Regions from separate parts of the Homo sapiens genome. Here region 2 is linked to region 1. A link means that fine-mapping ties the variant in region 1 to the expression of a gene that starts in the linked region. Tissue or cell type: whole blood. Region 1 holds a variant in brackets; the other region holds the start of a gene. All regions are shown on one strand. Distances are between the middles of the regions.

What was found. PIP is the estimated chance that this variant, and not a neighbour inherited with it, causes the effect.
Region 2: FOXN3 starts here. The variant in region 1 is fine-mapped to the expression of FOXN3 in whole blood (GTEx, PIP 0.92).

What each region holds. Positions count from the first base shown.
Region 1 is chr14:88,912,482-88,920,586 of GRCh38, reverse strand. No RefSeq gene overlaps it. Among named protein-coding and RNA genes, the nearest start is that of TRA-AGC15-1, 63 kb to the left of the region's middle. The variant G/A (reference allele first, on the strand shown) is at 4,274.
Region 2 is chr14:89,413,156-89,421,260 of GRCh38, reverse strand. It overlaps FOXN3 (forkhead box N3), which reads left to right and starts at 4,028. Exons shown (of 6, transcript NM_005197.4): 1 at 4,028-4,390. FOXN3-AS1 (FOXN3 antisense RNA 1) reads right to left here and starts at 3,907. Exons shown (of 2, transcript NR_036500.1): 1 at 3,465-3,907; 2 at 1,468-2,101. RefSeq lists silencers at 3,647-3,936, 3,977-4,186 and enhancers at 3,882-4,176, 3,801-4,333, 4,334-4,867, 4,882-5,176.

The sequences.
Region 1 (8,105 bases):
AAATGGAGTTGGAAGGGAGTAGTTAAGAGGCAATTGCAGAATTCCAGGTAAAATGATAAAGACCTGAATTATTACCCTAGCAGGAGAAATGATGTAATGGAGTTATTGAAAAACTAGAATTGACCAGATTTTCAACATCATTAGCAATTTTCATGTGTTTATTTAACACTTGTATATCCTCTTCTCTGAAATGACTCTTCATGTATTTTTGCCCACTATGTACTTGGATTGTTTATTTTTTTAACTATTAGAGTTTGATAACTCTTCATATATTTTAGATACTAGTCCTTTGCTGTACGTGTAGTTTGCAAATATTTTTCCACTCAGTAGGTTTATTTCATCATCTTAACTGTGTGTTTCAGTGACCTAAAGTTTTTCAAATATTGATTAAAGTTTTCACATAAATTTTTTTTATTTCAACCATTTTACGTGGACCATTCCATGGCATTAATTATGTTTACAATGTCATTAAACCATAACCACAATATGCAATTTCTTTCATCATTCCAAATACAAACTCTGCATCTATTAAGCAATAACCCACATTTCCACCACCACCCCAGTACCTGCTCCCTTCAATCTATTGTCTGTCTCAATTCATTTTTCCTATTCTAAATATTCTGTAGAAGTAGAATCATACATATTTGTCCTGTTAATTTCTGTCATAATTCACTTGCAATGTGTTTAAGGTTTGTCAATGTTGCAACTTGTATCAAACTTTCATTCCTTTTTATGGTGGAATAAAGTTTTATTGTTTGTATACCCTTAAAAAACAAGACCAGATTTGATGATCAATTCAATGTGAAGGGTGAGAGAGAGGAATGAGTCAAGAATGCAAGCATGCCTTCAGAGATGAACCAAGAGTGACTGCAATGGCAGGAATGCCAGCTCAGGTGCCCGGGTGGAAGAGTAACTGCTCTCCCTGCCGGAGAACAGAGGTCACAGGGTAGCTGGGCCAGGAGGAGGTGAGGCCTGTTATTTCACGGCTTTGTTGATAACTCTGAATCTATTATTTTGCTTTTCCTTCTGTCTTTGTTTACCTATTTGTTCCTTTGCTTGTTCTTTCTCACTGCTGGTTTGCAAACCAGGAGTACATACACCTAACTTGAACTGATATCATTATTTTTGGTAACAAGTCCTTTCACTTGAGAGTTTTAATTCTACAAGGGTAGGGCCAATGAAATAGTGTAGGCTGGCTAGGAACAGGTTGCTCTGGGGAAGAAAGTGTCCCCAGTGAAAACTTGGTGACTGAACAGCACATACTCATTGCAGACTTCTTAACGTTGCTTGAGGGATTCATTTGCCATAATTAAATACATGTATTAATTTATTCAATATGAATCTGGAGCTTGCTATAAACAGATGTCTCCACGGAAGGGTGCTGGAGAGCAAACCAGGTCTTATAATTTGTAGTCTGAGTCCTTGTGACCTTTTTTTGATTTGGGGTTCATGTTGAAAGCCACCGTTCATTTCTCTGTCATTGTATCTCATCTTCAGTCATTATAGAGGGAACCACATCCTCACCCCTGGGACTTCTCGAAGGGAATTGTTCATTAAGCCAGTCAAATTTAATCTCCATATTGTTAAAAATCTCCCCAACCCTTTTATATGATGCAATAACAAACAAATGAAAAGCAGCTAGAACTTGTATGCATATAAGTAGATCCCGAACAACAAAAGGACCAGTTTTTCTGGCTAAAAGCAAGCCTGCCATTACATTGAGGCCATGCCTTCATTCCTACTCACTCAATTATACTTGAGGAAGAGATGGGAAGCTAATTCTCTACCTGCCCCACAAAACTATTCCATTTCACAACCCATCTACACTATCACTTACATCGATAGCTCATGTTGCTGGCAGTAAAGTGCTGTGATCTTATTCCATTTTAAAACAGTCCTGGAATAAATGGTGCTGAAATTGCTCAGATCTAGCCTGCTATCTTCTACCCCAGCATACAGAGAGAGAACAGAACAGATGAAATGCTGGGCTTGCCGACCCCGTCTCTCCTTTCCACTTTGTGGTCTTAAGAAAATCACATAATCAGAAGTTCAATTACCTTATCTATAAAATAGGAAGAAAAGGCCGGGTGCAGTGGCTCACGCCTGTAATCTCAGCATTTTGGGAGGCCAAGGCGGGTGGATCACTTGAGGTCAGGAGTACGAGATCAGCCTGGCCAAAATGGCGAAACCCCATCTCTACTAAAAATACAAAAAAAAAAAAAAAAAAAATTAGCTGGGCGTGGTGGCAAGTGCCTGTAATCCCAGCTAATCAGAAGGCTGAGGCAGGAGAACCTCTTGAACCCAGGAGGTGGAGGTTGCAGCGAGCCGAGATCACACCATTGCACTCCAGCCTGGGCAACAAGAGCAAAACTCTGTTTCAAAATAAATAAATAAAAATAAAATAAATAAAACGGGAAGAATGATATCCTCAATGTAGATTTTTTAATGAGGATCACACAAAATAAAGTAGGTGAAAGTGCCGACGTTTGTTAGAGCAGAGCATTTCAGACTTTGACGTGTGTATGACCGTGTGGGAATGGGATACAGGTTCTGGCTTTGTAGCTCAGTGGTGGAGCCTGAAATTCTGAGTTTCTAACAAGCTCCCAGATGATGCCAATGCTGCTAGGCCATAGACCATAACTGGAGTAGCAAAGTGATTACTGTGTTGTCCAGTGTGGTAGATGCTGGCCACAGGTGTTCATTTAAGTTTAAATTAATTAAAATGAAATAAAATTTAAAATCCAGTTTGTTAATTGCAGTAGCCAAATGTTTAGATGTCCACAGCCACCTGTGACTAGTGGCTACCACTACATTGGACAACACAGACATAGAACATTTCCACCACTGCAGAAAGTTCCACTGGACTGTGCTGTGTTAAGCACCATGGTGATGTTTAAAAAGCTATTCGATAACATTCAAACAGTGTTTACTGATCGTCTTTGTATTTGTCAGGGTTCTCTAGAGGCACAGAACTAATAGGATAGATGTATATATGAAGGGGAGTTTATTAGGAGAATTGGCTCACATGATCACAAGGTGAAGTCCCACAATAGGCCATCTGCAAGCTGAGAAGCCAGGAAGCCAGTCCGAGTCCCAAAACCTCAAAAGTAGGGAAGCAGACTGTGCAGCCTTCAGTCTGTGGCCTAAGACCCAAGAGGCCCTGGCAAACCACTGGTATAAGTCTAAGAGTTCAAAGCTGAAGAACCTGGAGTCTGATGTTCAAGGGCAGGAAACATCCATCACGGGAGAAAGACGGAGGCCAGAAGACTAAACTAGTCTAGTCTTTCCCTGATTCCTGCCTGCTTTTATTATGGCCGCACTGGCAGCTGATTAAATTATGCCCACCAGGATTGAGGGTCAGTCTGCCCTTCCCAGTTCACTGACTCAAATGTTAATCTCCTTTGGCAACACCCTCACAGACACATCCAGGAACAGTACTTTGTATTCTTCAATGAAGTTGACACTCAAGATTAGCTATCACAATCTTCCACGTATATTTCTAGACACTAATGAGATAGCAGTGAGCAAAACAAAGTCCTTGCCCTTGTGGAGCTTACCTTCTGATTTGAATAAATAAGAGATTGTAACTAAATGGTCTTGGATACAGCAGCTCTCTCATAAGCAGACTCAGCTTTATCCTACAACAGCCTCACAGCAGAATTCATCACTTCCTCACAGCCCCTGAAGCAAAAGCCACTCAAATAACCATAAGTGAAGAATTAGTCTGAAGATTTTACTGAAGATTTCTTAAAGGATGCTACAGGGAAGTCTACATTGCATAGCCCAGAATACTGTTTAATATTGTTTTTCTTTTTCCTTTTAAAATTACACAATTAATACATGTCAAATAGGATTTTTACCTGCTTTCCACTCCCAACCCCCAAAACGCCCTGTCTGATACTTCTTCCTAAGTCTCTCTGTTTTGGGTCACCGAAGAGATCTTCCCAATATTCTCATTTTGCAGAGAAATTAATCTCTGCCCAGTTCCTCAAGCCTTGCATGCCTGTTACTTCTATACCTTTTACTTCTTTGAGTTCTACCGCAGCTTTCATTCGAGATGAAGTACACCTGCCCTCACGTTGTTGACCATGAAACATTGGTGGTAATCACCAGCTCACAAAAGCCAGTGGTGCTTTTATCTTCCCAACTTTGTGTTCAGTGACCTCATATTAGAAAGCTTGAAATTCATCTGAGTGGTAGTATTTACACCATAGAAATTGGCATATGCTACAAACTAGGTCTTTTTTTTTCCCCAGAGAACCAACTGTTAAAC[G/A]TGTGGTAGCACACCACTGGGTGTAGAGAACATGTAGAGATGACATGGTGCCCAGTGTCATTTAGAGCTTATTGAGAGGACTCTGTTTCATTTTGTAGCCCCAGATGCTTCTTCCTCTTTGTTTTCTACTGTGGGGTCTGAAAGCTGTCTCACTCCTCTGAGGGGGACCCTCCCTTGCAAGACAGAGGAGAAGCAGCCACTCTGGCAAGTCAAAGAACATCATCCCATGGCTTAAAACAGAGTGGTCCTCTGGGCCGGGAGAGACGTCAGGGAGAAAATAAGAATGAACCACATCCCTCCACTCCATTCATTGATAGGAAACCTACAGACAGCACCTGATACTCACCTGCCTTCAGGTGTGCTTTCTTTGGTTTATCGTGAAACCAGCCAAATTCATTTTTCTCTGTAACTGTTAAATTGAAAATCAGTGACATAAAGAGGTGATAAGGGAAAACTGGGTTTGACTTCCGGTATCTCACAACTGCCCTTAGTGGACTGCAACCACCGTGGTAACACTCTAGAAGTATGGAACAAAAACTAGTTTACAGTCACCTCTGCTCAGAGCGGGGGTGGGGGAGATGGAGGAGTTAAATGCAAGGATGTGAAAATCATTTGGGGGATTTGCAAGAAGCTCTGGCTAAGGCAGCCCCCCTGGGCAAGCTTCTCTTCAGCTCCTATTTTCTGTTGGCTGTGGCTTGAGCCAGCTCTACACTATAGCTGTGGGCACTGCCTCATAAGAGACTCTTGCCTCCCTCCTATCATTTTTGCACTTCTCTTTTCTGTTTCTTCTCAAGTCTGACTTGACATTCAGTGAAGCCTCTTTTGCTTTGGATGAAAATCCTAGAAGTGGTGAGGGAGGTGGGGTAGGAGAGGCTCCCACTATGATTTAGCCTGGGTTTCAACAGGGCCCCAGGCTCACCCCACTCACGGCAACACTGGATGTTAGGTTCTGCCCTAACCCTTCCACCCCTGCACCCTAAGGCTTTAGTGGAGAGGCCACAATGAGAGAGGCTGCTGCCACCAGCGGAGAAGATAGGAAAAGAAGGAAAAGAAGCATTTGTGTGAGGAAAGCCTCCGTGGATGGTACACCTGTCCCCTTGGCCCTTGACTCATTCTTCTGTTCCTTAATGCCATCTGGATCAGCTGTGGGCTCTCTTGCCTAATTATAGTTCATAAGGGCCAATTTTGTAATGACTTGGCACCTAAATTGAGCCTGCACCTTTTTCACACTGCAGTTTGGGCTTTAATAGCTTGATTAAGTAGGACAGCCAACTCGGGTAAATCACCTTGCTTGTAAAGAGGTGTTTAGGGCTATATGAGGGAAAAAATGCCTTTACAAGGTGGACGGCTTAAAGGTAGATCCAAATGCAGCATCTTGACTAGAAATTTCAAGCCAGATAGGCTGGGTTTAAAAATATGGGGCAGGGGTCCAAGCTGCAGCCCATGTTTTGTGGTATCTCCTCCCTTCTCCTCACTCTCAGCTGATGGCCTTATTTCACTGGAACAATAGGAGCAATTAGAAGAATGTCACCTGCCCCCAAGGAGACATCTTTCCGGGTAGCAGTGCCTATATCTTTATACTCTTGTCTTTCATCCTGTTGCTATGGGCAGAGCTGTCTACACTTCTATTTAAAACCAAACCCAACACTGGAAGCCTTCCCCTCTTACCTTCTGCGATAACCCTCTCTTGCTTGCATCGCCAAGTTTCTCCCCTGCAAGACAGTTCTCTGAGTGACCTTGAACCAACCCAATTTTCCCTCCCCCTTTTTTGCATGTAGTCTCAAGAATAAGAGTAGAATGTGCTGGAATGCAATATCCTGAGAAAAAGCTCAGGCTTTATTCCTCTCTCCCCCAGAAGGAAGATGTCCTTCAAAGCTTTGCCCAGGGAGTCCTGTTTCTCCCAGGGTATGAAACCCAGGGCAGGCTGCCTTTTGAGGGTCCTCAGCTGTGATACAAAATGGGACACAGGCAGTCAAGACCACGTTCACCTTGGGCAGTTTTCTTGAGCCTTGAGGGATGAGCTCACAATGGATCCAAGACTTCTGTCCCTTACTGTTATCTATAAAAAATAAACCTGCTTTACATAACTTGTGTGTATGTTCTGTCTCACTGGACTCAGACAAATAGATAACCAGTATGAGGTGGACTTAACAGTAGCCTAGGATGTCTCGGGCATAAGTACATGGACTCCTGGTTTCTGGTGCTTGGCATAATGACATTCTCTGCAATTCTATACTCAGTGGGAGTCTCTCTTGAGATTGATGATTAGTGAGCCTGCTCCATGCCCCCTCTCTGCTGGATCATTTCTATCAGCATATAAACACGTCGTACACTGCCTATCTAGAAACAAAACACAATCAAAACACAGAAATAAAAACCTCCTTTGACCTAACGTCTACAATCCAGGTGCTGCCAATCCCTCCCTCCCTTTTACAGAAAAATACCTTGAAAGGGTTGGTTATCTAGTTTTACGGGCTCAACATCTCTCTTTTTGGTTTTTCTTGATCCTCTCACATAAGCTTTTCATGCCTAACACTCCAGTGAAAGAGCTCTATATCCAATGGTCAAATTTAAGTTCTCCTCGAACCCTATCAACAGATTCATGTGACCCTGTTGAGCACCTTCCTTCTTGAAACACACTTCACTGGACCTCCAGCCCTCCACTTCCTCTCTTGGTTTTCTTCTTACTCACTGGCCACTCCTCAGCCTGTTTTACATACTCCTCAGCCTCTTTTGCTGCATCCTCCTGATTTTCCCCATCTCCAAAGTTTGGAGGATACAGTCATTGGACAGCTTATCTTCTCTATCCGCATTTCTTTCCTAGGTAATCTCATCCAGCCTAATGGCTTTAAATACTATCTTGTCATTGACAATTCCCAAATGTGCCAGCCTGGACATGTCTTCCGAATCTCAGCTCTTGAATCCAGCTGCCTCCTGTACAGCTCCATTGGGATAGGAATTTCAAGCTGAATTTTAACTCCTTTTTTTTTTTGAGACAGGGAAGTCTCACTCTGTTGCACAGGCTGGAGTGCAGTGGCACAATCACTGTAGCCTTGACCTCCCACACTCAAGCAATCCTCCCACCCCAGCCTCCTGAGTAGCTGGGACTACAGGTGCATACCACCACACCCAGCTAATTTTATTATTTTTTGTAGAGCCAGGACCTCACTATATTCCCTAGGCTGGTCTTGAACTCCTATCCTCAAGTAATCCTCCCACCTTGGCTTCCAAAGTGCTGGGATTACAGGCATGAGCCACTGAACTGAGTGAATTTTAACTCTTGATTTCTCCCTCCATCAACTCTTTCAGTTGCTCAGGCCAAAAAGCCATGGAGGCATCTGTAACTCCTTTCTTTCTCACACATTCGACAGCCAATCCATCAGCAAATCCCTGGCAGCTCCACTTCTAAAACATACCCAGAATCTGCTCACACCTCCCTGACTCCACTGCCACCACCCAAGCCAAGCCACCATCGTCTCTCACCTGGATCATTGTGGTCCACTCTATGTTTCTACCCTTGACATCCCAACGGCCAGAATGATGCTTTAAAAATCAGGTCAGGTATGTCATTCCTTTTCTCAGAACCCTCACATCCTTTTCTACCTCTCCCAGATAGAATCTAAAGCCCTTACCACCACCTGCAAAGCTCTACACAACCTGGATCCTGAGGCCTCTGGCCTCACCTCACTGCACCCTGTCCCTGCTGCCTAACTCAGTTTAGGCTGCCAGAACAAAATGCCACATACTGGGTGGGGGGAGGGGGCTTAACTCATAAACATTTATTTAGTCACAGTTCTAGAGGCTGGAAGTCCAAGATCAAAACGTCAGCAGG
Region 2 (8,105 bases), 500 kb before region 1:
GGAGAATCACTTGAACCTGGGAGGTGGAGGTTGCAGTGAGCCGAGATTGTGCCATTGCACTCCAGCCTGGGCAACAAGAGCAAAACTCTTGTCTCAAAAAAAAAAAAAAAAAAAAGAAAGAAAGAAAATATGGACAAGTATGAAAGAAGCACACAAAAAAGAAGTATCCCATAACTCTAACATTCAGAAGGAACCACTATTTTAGCCTTTTTTCCCCAATTTTTTTTTTTCTTAAACAGTCTTCATTCTGTTTTGTATGAATTACTGCAATGATTTCTGAGTTGTTCTGCTGGTTTTTGATCTTCCAGTTTCTCTCTTCCTCTCCCGAAATTCATCTTGGATCCACCATCCCCATTTATCTTTTTTTTTTTTTTTAATTCGTATCTCTGATAATACAACTTCTGGGCTCAAAAATATTCAGTGAGCCACCTTTGCCCTCTGACCTTAACACATATAAATTGCTCACCCTGCTATTCAAGGAGTTTGGTGATATGATGCTTGCACTCTTACCCACTAATCTGTGTGCTCTTTAGGGACAAAGACCGTCTATCTCTGGCAGCTAACACAATGCCATGCACTTGGTAGGCACTCAGCAAATATTTGTTCAGTGAATGAGTTCCTCTTCTACTACAATCAAGTCAGATTTGGTAATTCTGTGCCATCGATTTCTCTTGGAACAGCAGTTTGTAAGCAAAATCATCCCCTTGTGCTTTCTCAAAATACACATATCCAGGCACCATCCTAGAAGACTCTAGTTGGTTAGGTGTGGCTTCTGGATGGTTCTGATGGGCATCCCCAGGTGAGAAGCTCAGGTCAAGAACACCCCTTCCCCATTTCCACAGGTTAAACAGCAACCCACCCTTATTAGATATCCCACTTCCAAAGTCATCTCCCCTCCCTTCCCCAGATGTTTCACCATGTCCCTTGTCTCAGCTGTTAGCAGTAGGGAGTGGTGGGGGGCCATGCGCGTAGGGGAGTCATGTGACTCAGGCTAGGCCAATCGCACTATTTCCCTGAGAAGTTAAACTATGTCATGGAAGGCTTGAGGCAGTTCAAAGGTGGTGGGTGCTAAAAGTCAGAAGGCCTCAGGGCTTGCTGCTGGCAGCCCTGTGTGGTTATCATTGAGCAGAGGAAGCCAACCTGCAGGGTAGAGAGTGGAGTCACCTATAGAGGGAAGCACGAAAGGAATATGGTTCTGTGCAGGCCAGCGGTGTGTGCCTGCCCAGCCTCCCCGTATTTCCTCTCATATATCCTTTGTACTGGAGTCTCTTTGCAGGATCCCTCCCCAGAAGACTGTCTTTCCAGGCCTGCCTCGGACTCTTCCTATTTTGGGCAGTCTCTCAGGTCTTCCCGACTGCACCTGCTCACCTACTCAGTTGTACTGCCTCAAGGGGGGCAAGGTATATCGGGTTTTATACTTAACTATTCCATAAATAGCCATGCTGCTCTAATAACCAATACAGTGTGTGTGTAGGGGGATTAAAGTTCTTGACCAGAGAAACATTTAGCAAAAGAATGCACAAAACATCAAGGGAGGGGCGCTCTTCTCCTTGGAGGAGGAACTGAGGTCCCACGCTGATGGGGGCAGATAAGCCTGGAATTGAGGACTTCCAGCTCCCAGATACTTATGTACTCTCCAGCCCATGCTCAGATGGGGCTGCAGAATGGTCCCATCAAGTCCTCTATCAGGAAATAAGTGTTTCTCAAAGTGATTTCTAGGGCACATATACAATTCGGCTGTTAAATGTGTTTGTAAAACAGTGTAGACAAGACATTAGACAATGCAGCTTGCTTATTTGTGACTTCTCAGGACCTAAGACGCAAGGGTCCTTTCTGAAAGTTCATGGGGAATTGTGAATGGGGTTGTTCCCAAACAAATTTGGCCCCTGCACCCTAGGTCAGGAAGCAAGTCCCAGAGCTGAGGTTCTATGGAATTAGAAGGTGGAAAAGGCCACATTAAGCCCTCCTTTGGCTTTCAGCATTTTTTCCCCCATTTCAGATAGACCGACAGGCAGACATGTGTCCCCTGCTGTCCACATCAGGCAGGGCTGGTCCACCACTTCCTCTTCAGGGTGACACCTTCTCACATCTCTTGCTGCAACTGTAATGGGAGAGAGAAATTAAGAAATATGTTTGAGAATGCAAGAAGCAAAAACACACATGGAATGACATATTCCATGTACAATCACCTTTGGCTCACATCCCCTCTTTTTGAACTCTGAGAAAGCAGGAGGGGACTGGGGCCGGTGAAAATAAGGTGCCACCTCTACTTAATATAAAGAGATTTCTGGCTATTGTGTGAGTGTAGCTGGGGGACTTGGGGGTGGGGTTGGGGGCTGGGGATGGAAGAGGAAGATGTAAGGGGGCGACTTCGTCCTCTCTAGGCCAGCAAGGGCTTGGACAAAGGTCTCTGGCCTTGGTTCCTCTGGCGGAGAATAAGCACCCTCAACTGACGCGCTGATGGAGGGGCAGGACCTGCATTAGCCGGAGCTACAGGAAAGCAGGGTACACATTGTCTCATCCTGGCTTTGTTACCACTTCTAACCCTGAGAATCTCTGGCGTGAGACTTCAAAGATCATCTGACTTGTCTCTGCCACCTTGTGCCTTTTGCTTAGTGACTTTGGGTAGGTCGCATCAAGTGCTCAGTAATCAAAGGGGTGGGGCTGGATGACCTCAGGCTACCCCTGGGCTTCCACCTCCTAATTGTCTCCAGATGGGGAGATGCCACACAACTTGGAAGTAGTAAGGTCTCCGGTGAGTCTGAAAGGCACATCTTTGCTGAAGACTTGTCACCTGCCCTCTTGAACCTTTGTTAGGGGGAATGACTCTCAGATTGGGGGGGGGGGGTCTATTTTTTGAGACAGAAAAAATTTTCAGAAGCCTAACTGGTGTTTCCCTTAGTCCCTCCTTTTGGCTAGGTTTAAAAGTACTGCATGCTAGAAAGCTTTCTCCAGGTCTACTCGCTGTTTTTTTCTGTAGTTTTCAGACCGCTCACGATGTCCTGTCCACTGGCTCAGGAGGGGGTGGCAGGAAGGGTGCCCTGGGCTTCTCCTCTGTAGAGGAACCAACCAATTTGGCTACCTGGGAGTAATGTGCAATCACATTTTTATTTTTGTCACCACCAGGGTGTCCTGTTGGACTCTCTCCTCTCATCCTCTCCCAAGGCGGCTGGTTGGTGTGGCTTTAGCAGTGGGTGCTATTATTTGGAGGTGCCTAGAGACTTAGAGTGGTGGCTGCACCATTTCGCTGGGTGGCTTGCGAATTGTCAGTCTGGTTCCTGAGAGCTCAAACTGAGATGGAAATGAGACCTGTTTTCTCTCTAGGCCGGCCGGGGCGTTCCGCACAACCCACTTGAGAGGCCCCACCGGCGTGGCCTTTAGGACGGTGCCTCTTGTCTTGTAATGGCCACCGGCCCTCCCTCGGGAGACACGCGGCCACCTGGGTGGGACGCTGCGGTGCTTACCTCCGGGACACGAGGTGGTCGCTGGGAGAGGGCTCGGAAGGCCCTGGGGGTCCTATCAGGACGCAGCACTGGGGAGACGTGGAATCTCCTCTTCTCACCCCCACAAGCCTCGCCCGCATCGTAATTCTTTTTATTTTTACTTTCGAGCCATGTAAGGCATGCAGATGGGGTAGGAGCGTTCCCGCGACACGTTGCCAGCAGCGCAGCGCCGGCCCGCTCGTGTGGCCGGAGCCCGGGGAGGGGACAGGGCACGCGCCGCCTGACCCACCTGCCCCACCGCCCACGGTCGCGGCCGCCCTGGGTCGCGGGACCCGCGCCGGTCACCCCCGCCCCGCGGGGCCCAAGAGGCGAGGCCGCGCGGCCCAGCCCCGGCCTCCGCCCTGGCTGAGTGCTGGGGCGCGCGAGGGGCGCGGGCAGGGTCCGCCCCGGCGGGTCAGTGCCCCGCGCCCCAGGCCGCTGGCGGCCAGGCCCACGTTTTCCCTTTCTCCGGCTCCCTCCGCCCTCCGCTCTGTCCCTCCCTCCGCCCTCCTCCCTCCCCGCGCTTCCCCTCCTCCTGCCTGGTCATGTGTCGCCTTTTTTTGTTTGCAGTGGAAACAATTTCTCGCCGCTCGGCGCGCCCCGGCCCGACGCGCCGCGGCGGAGGCGAGCGGGAGGCGGGACGGGGCGGGGAGAGCGGCGGGGCCGGCGGGAGGACGCGCGGCGCGCCCGGCGGACGCCGCAGGTCCCATGCCGCGCCGCGACCCCCGCGCCCCTGCCGCCCGCGCCCGCGGCCGCCCCCCGCCGCCCGCCGCCCCGGGCTCGCCGCGCCGCGCCCGCGCGTCCTTAGCGGGGCCACCGAGCGATGCCCGCCGGGCGCCCGCGAAAGTTTGTCGGCTCCTGCTGAAGGGCAGCGGCGCCCCCGCACCCCCGTGCCCCGCTCCGGCCAGGTGAGTTTGCACCCCGCTCCTGCCGGCTCCCGCGTGGGCTCGGGGGGCACCCGGGGCGGGAGGCGCGTCCGAGACGGTCCTGGAGACTACCTCGCCGCTCTGGGAAGACGAGGGACCCCGCAGGTCCTGGGGGGAGGGTCGGGTGTGGACCCCGGGAGCCCCCGAGCCGGGAAGTTGCCGGGTCCGAAGAGTTTCCTGCCCCGACGTGCGTGCTGCTTCCCGGTGCCTCGGTTTCCGAAAAGACGCCCGCAAGGAACAGAGTTGGTATTGTCTGCGGAGGACGGGGTCCCCGCCGTTCCGGGCCGGGGAGGGGGTTCCGATCAAGTGGAGACCCCAAGATGAGAAACAGGCTCCTAACAAAGATCACCCCCCGGCCAAACTGTGCAGACTTGGCACAGGCAACGAACGTCTCCGGAGACCCCCGAGGCCCGACCCCCCTCATCCCGGCCCTGTTTGAAACCCTCCTTGGGCCCTGGATAAGTTGGGGGACGGCGGGCTTTTATTGATTTGTTTTCGAGGCTCGCCGCGGTGCGGCCAATAAAAGGTTTATGACATCTGACCGGCAGTGAAGGTATGCGAGCTCCCAATTGCCCTGTATATGGGGATAAGAGCAGTTTCCCCCGTTGCCCGGCAACGCCGCTGATTGACGCGGGGTGCAGCCAATCGCCACTCCCGCAGGTCCCCTTGAAATGTTTTTGACAAGTACAGTAGACGAGAGTGAAGCGCGTGCGTGCGCGCGCGCGCGTGCTGGGTGGGCGGGGGTGACCCGGCCCCCCAAACTCGCTACTGCTCGGCTCTGGGAAGATTTCTTAACTTTTTAAAGTTCGCATCGAACATCTGTTCAGAGCTGGGCCAGTAATGTCTTTGTCAGTTATTTGGAGACCTTCTGTTTACTAGGCGAGAAACTAAGCTTTCTTGCCGCATTTTCTCCGTTAAAAAATAAAGAGGGTAACAAAACACAGCAAGTCATAAAAAAAACAAAAGAGGGTGTGTGTGTGTGTGTGTGTGTGTGTGTGTGTGTGTAGAGAAAAGTTGTAAGGAGGTCACCAGTGAATAACTATTTGCGTATCTGGTGGAGCAGCCTTGTTGGCAGCAGATTAAAAATGTTTGCTTAACTGCAACTCACATGATCCAGATTCTTTTTTTTTCCCTCTGAAACAGGAGGAAAAAAAGATTTGGCGAAATCTGTAGTTAGAGTATAATAATGGAAAACTCCTCAGCTGTGGTTTCTGGGAACTGTTTTTTTTTTTTTTTTTTTTTTTTTTTGGTTATTGTTGTTTTGTTTTGTTTTTACATGGAACTGTAGTGATCAGCAGCTCTTCACCCTGTTGGTATAAAATGCGGGATTTATAGGGATGCAGTGAGTGGTTGGAGAGTACGGGGTCCCAGCACAAAACGCACACATGATCCAAGGGTACTGAACTCCCATAACCCTCTCTTCGTGACAATGCCACTTTTTCTCCTAAAACCATATTGCTGGCAGTGTTTGTTTAAAACAAAAGGAAACATGGAGAATAGCGTGTTAGTTCCTCTGGGAAGCTACTGACAAATAAGCAAATTAAAAAGAAAGAGAGCAGCATGTTGTCATAGCAACAGTGCAATTAAATTACTTTACTGTCAGCCATGATATAATTTTCCTGTTTGGAAGCTCAGGAGACATAAAACTTTCATTTAGAGCTAAAGTTGACTTCAGTGGCTGGGTAGTTCTGTTTTATACTCTACTGTGGGCATATGCTGGTCATCAGAAAATTTTCTGATGGGATCTGAGGAAACTTTAAGAAAGACAAGTGGTGCTATAATTCGTTCATAAAGAAGTTAAAAGCAGGATCAGACCAGACTCTGTTGTATCCCCAAGCCAAAAGATGCTAGCTTGTTTTTTGTCTGAAATGTGTCAGGGTAACCTCCTTATTTGACAGAAAGAAATATTCCCTGTGAGTGAACCCAAGACGTCTGGAGCATCCTGCCTGGTCTGTACTGCAATGCCTCATGAAGTTTTCTCTCCTTAAGAGTTGGGCATCTTGGCCAGGCGCGGTGGCTCACGCCTGTAATCCCAGCACTTTGGGAGGCCGAGGCGGGTGGATCACGAGATCAAGAGATTGAGACCATCCTGGCCAACATGGTGAAACCCCGTCTTACTAAAAATACAAAAATTAACCAGTCATGGTGGCACACGCCTGTAGTCCCAGCTACTTGGGAGGCTGAGGCAGGAGAATCTCTTGAACCTGGGAGGCAGGGGTTGCAGTGAGCGGATTTTGCACCACTGCACTCCAGCCTGGGCAACAGAGTGAGACTCTGTCTCAAAAAAAAAAAAAAAAAAAACCGGTTGGGCCTCTCACCACAGCTCCCCCTTAGGCCTTGCGTCTAGCAGGTTCTACCTTTTGGAAGAGGGAAGGTACTATAATTCACAGGCACCCTTGGCTGGTAGGTTAGTGCCCAGGATTATGCCTTCTAGAATTCCCTAATAGAGCTTCCACAGCTGAAGTGGCAGTTGTTTTAGATGTGGTGTTAATGAACATTTAAGAGACATAGAAGGGTCATGTCTTTGCCTTTTTAATTTTATTTATTTATTTTTTTGAGACAGGGTCTCCCTCTGTTGCCCAGGCTGGAGTGCAGTGAGCCTCAACCTCCTGGGCTCAAGTGATCCTCCCACCTCAGCCTCCCAAGTAGCTGGGACTACAGGCACACACCACCACACCTAGCGAATTTTTGTATTTTTTTGGTGGAGATGGCGTTTTACCATGTTGGCCAGGCTGGTCTTGAACTTCTGAGCTCAAGGGATCCTCCTGCCTCAGACTCCCAAAGTGATGGGATTATAAGCATGAGCTACCATGCCTGGCCTATGTCTTTGCTTTTAAATATGTTCATTCATCCCTCCTCCTTCTTCTCCTCCTCCTCCTCCTCCTCCATCCCTCCTCCTCCTCCCCCTTCTCCTCCCCCTCCCGCTTCTTCCTCCTTCCTCCCCTTGCCCTGCCCTGCCCTGCCCTTCCCTGCCCTTCCCTTCTCTTGCCCTCCCTTCCCCTCCTCTCCTCTCCCCTCCCTTCCCTTCCTTTTCCCTTCTCTTTCCCTTCCTTTCTTCTTTCCCTTCCCTTCTTTTTTTCCTTCTTCTTTCCCTTCTTCCTTCCCTTCCCTTCTCCCTTCCCTTCCCCCTTCTCTTCCGTTCCCTTCCCCCTTCTCTTCCGTTCCCTTCCCCCTTCTCTTCCATTCCCTTCCCTTCTTCCTTACCTTCTTCAAAACTTTTGAGACAGCATCTCACTCTGTTGCTCAGGCTGGAGTGCAGTGGTACAGTCATGGCTCACTGCAGCCTCAGCTTCTTGGGTTCAAGCAGTCCTCCCACTCAGCCTCCCAAGTAGCTGGGACTACAGGCACATGCCACCATGCCCGGCTAATTTTTGTATTTTTCATAGAGATGGGGTTTCGCCATGTTGCCCAGGCTGGTCTCAAACCCCTGGGCTCAAGTGATCCTCCTGCCTCAGCCTCCCAAAGTGGTGAGATTATAGGCGTGAGCCACCATGCCCAGCCTGTTCATTTGTTTTCTAGGTAGATGCTTGATTTTCTTACTGTTCGTTTGTGGGGGGAATTAAAACCTAACAGTTTTAAACCAAGCATATTGTTTTAGCGCTACGGAGAGTGGGAGACCTTTTTGGTTATCTTTACTGTTCTTTCTGTGTTACGTTGGGTGCTGGAGGGTTGAACATGCTTTGTGTCTGTAGGGGTC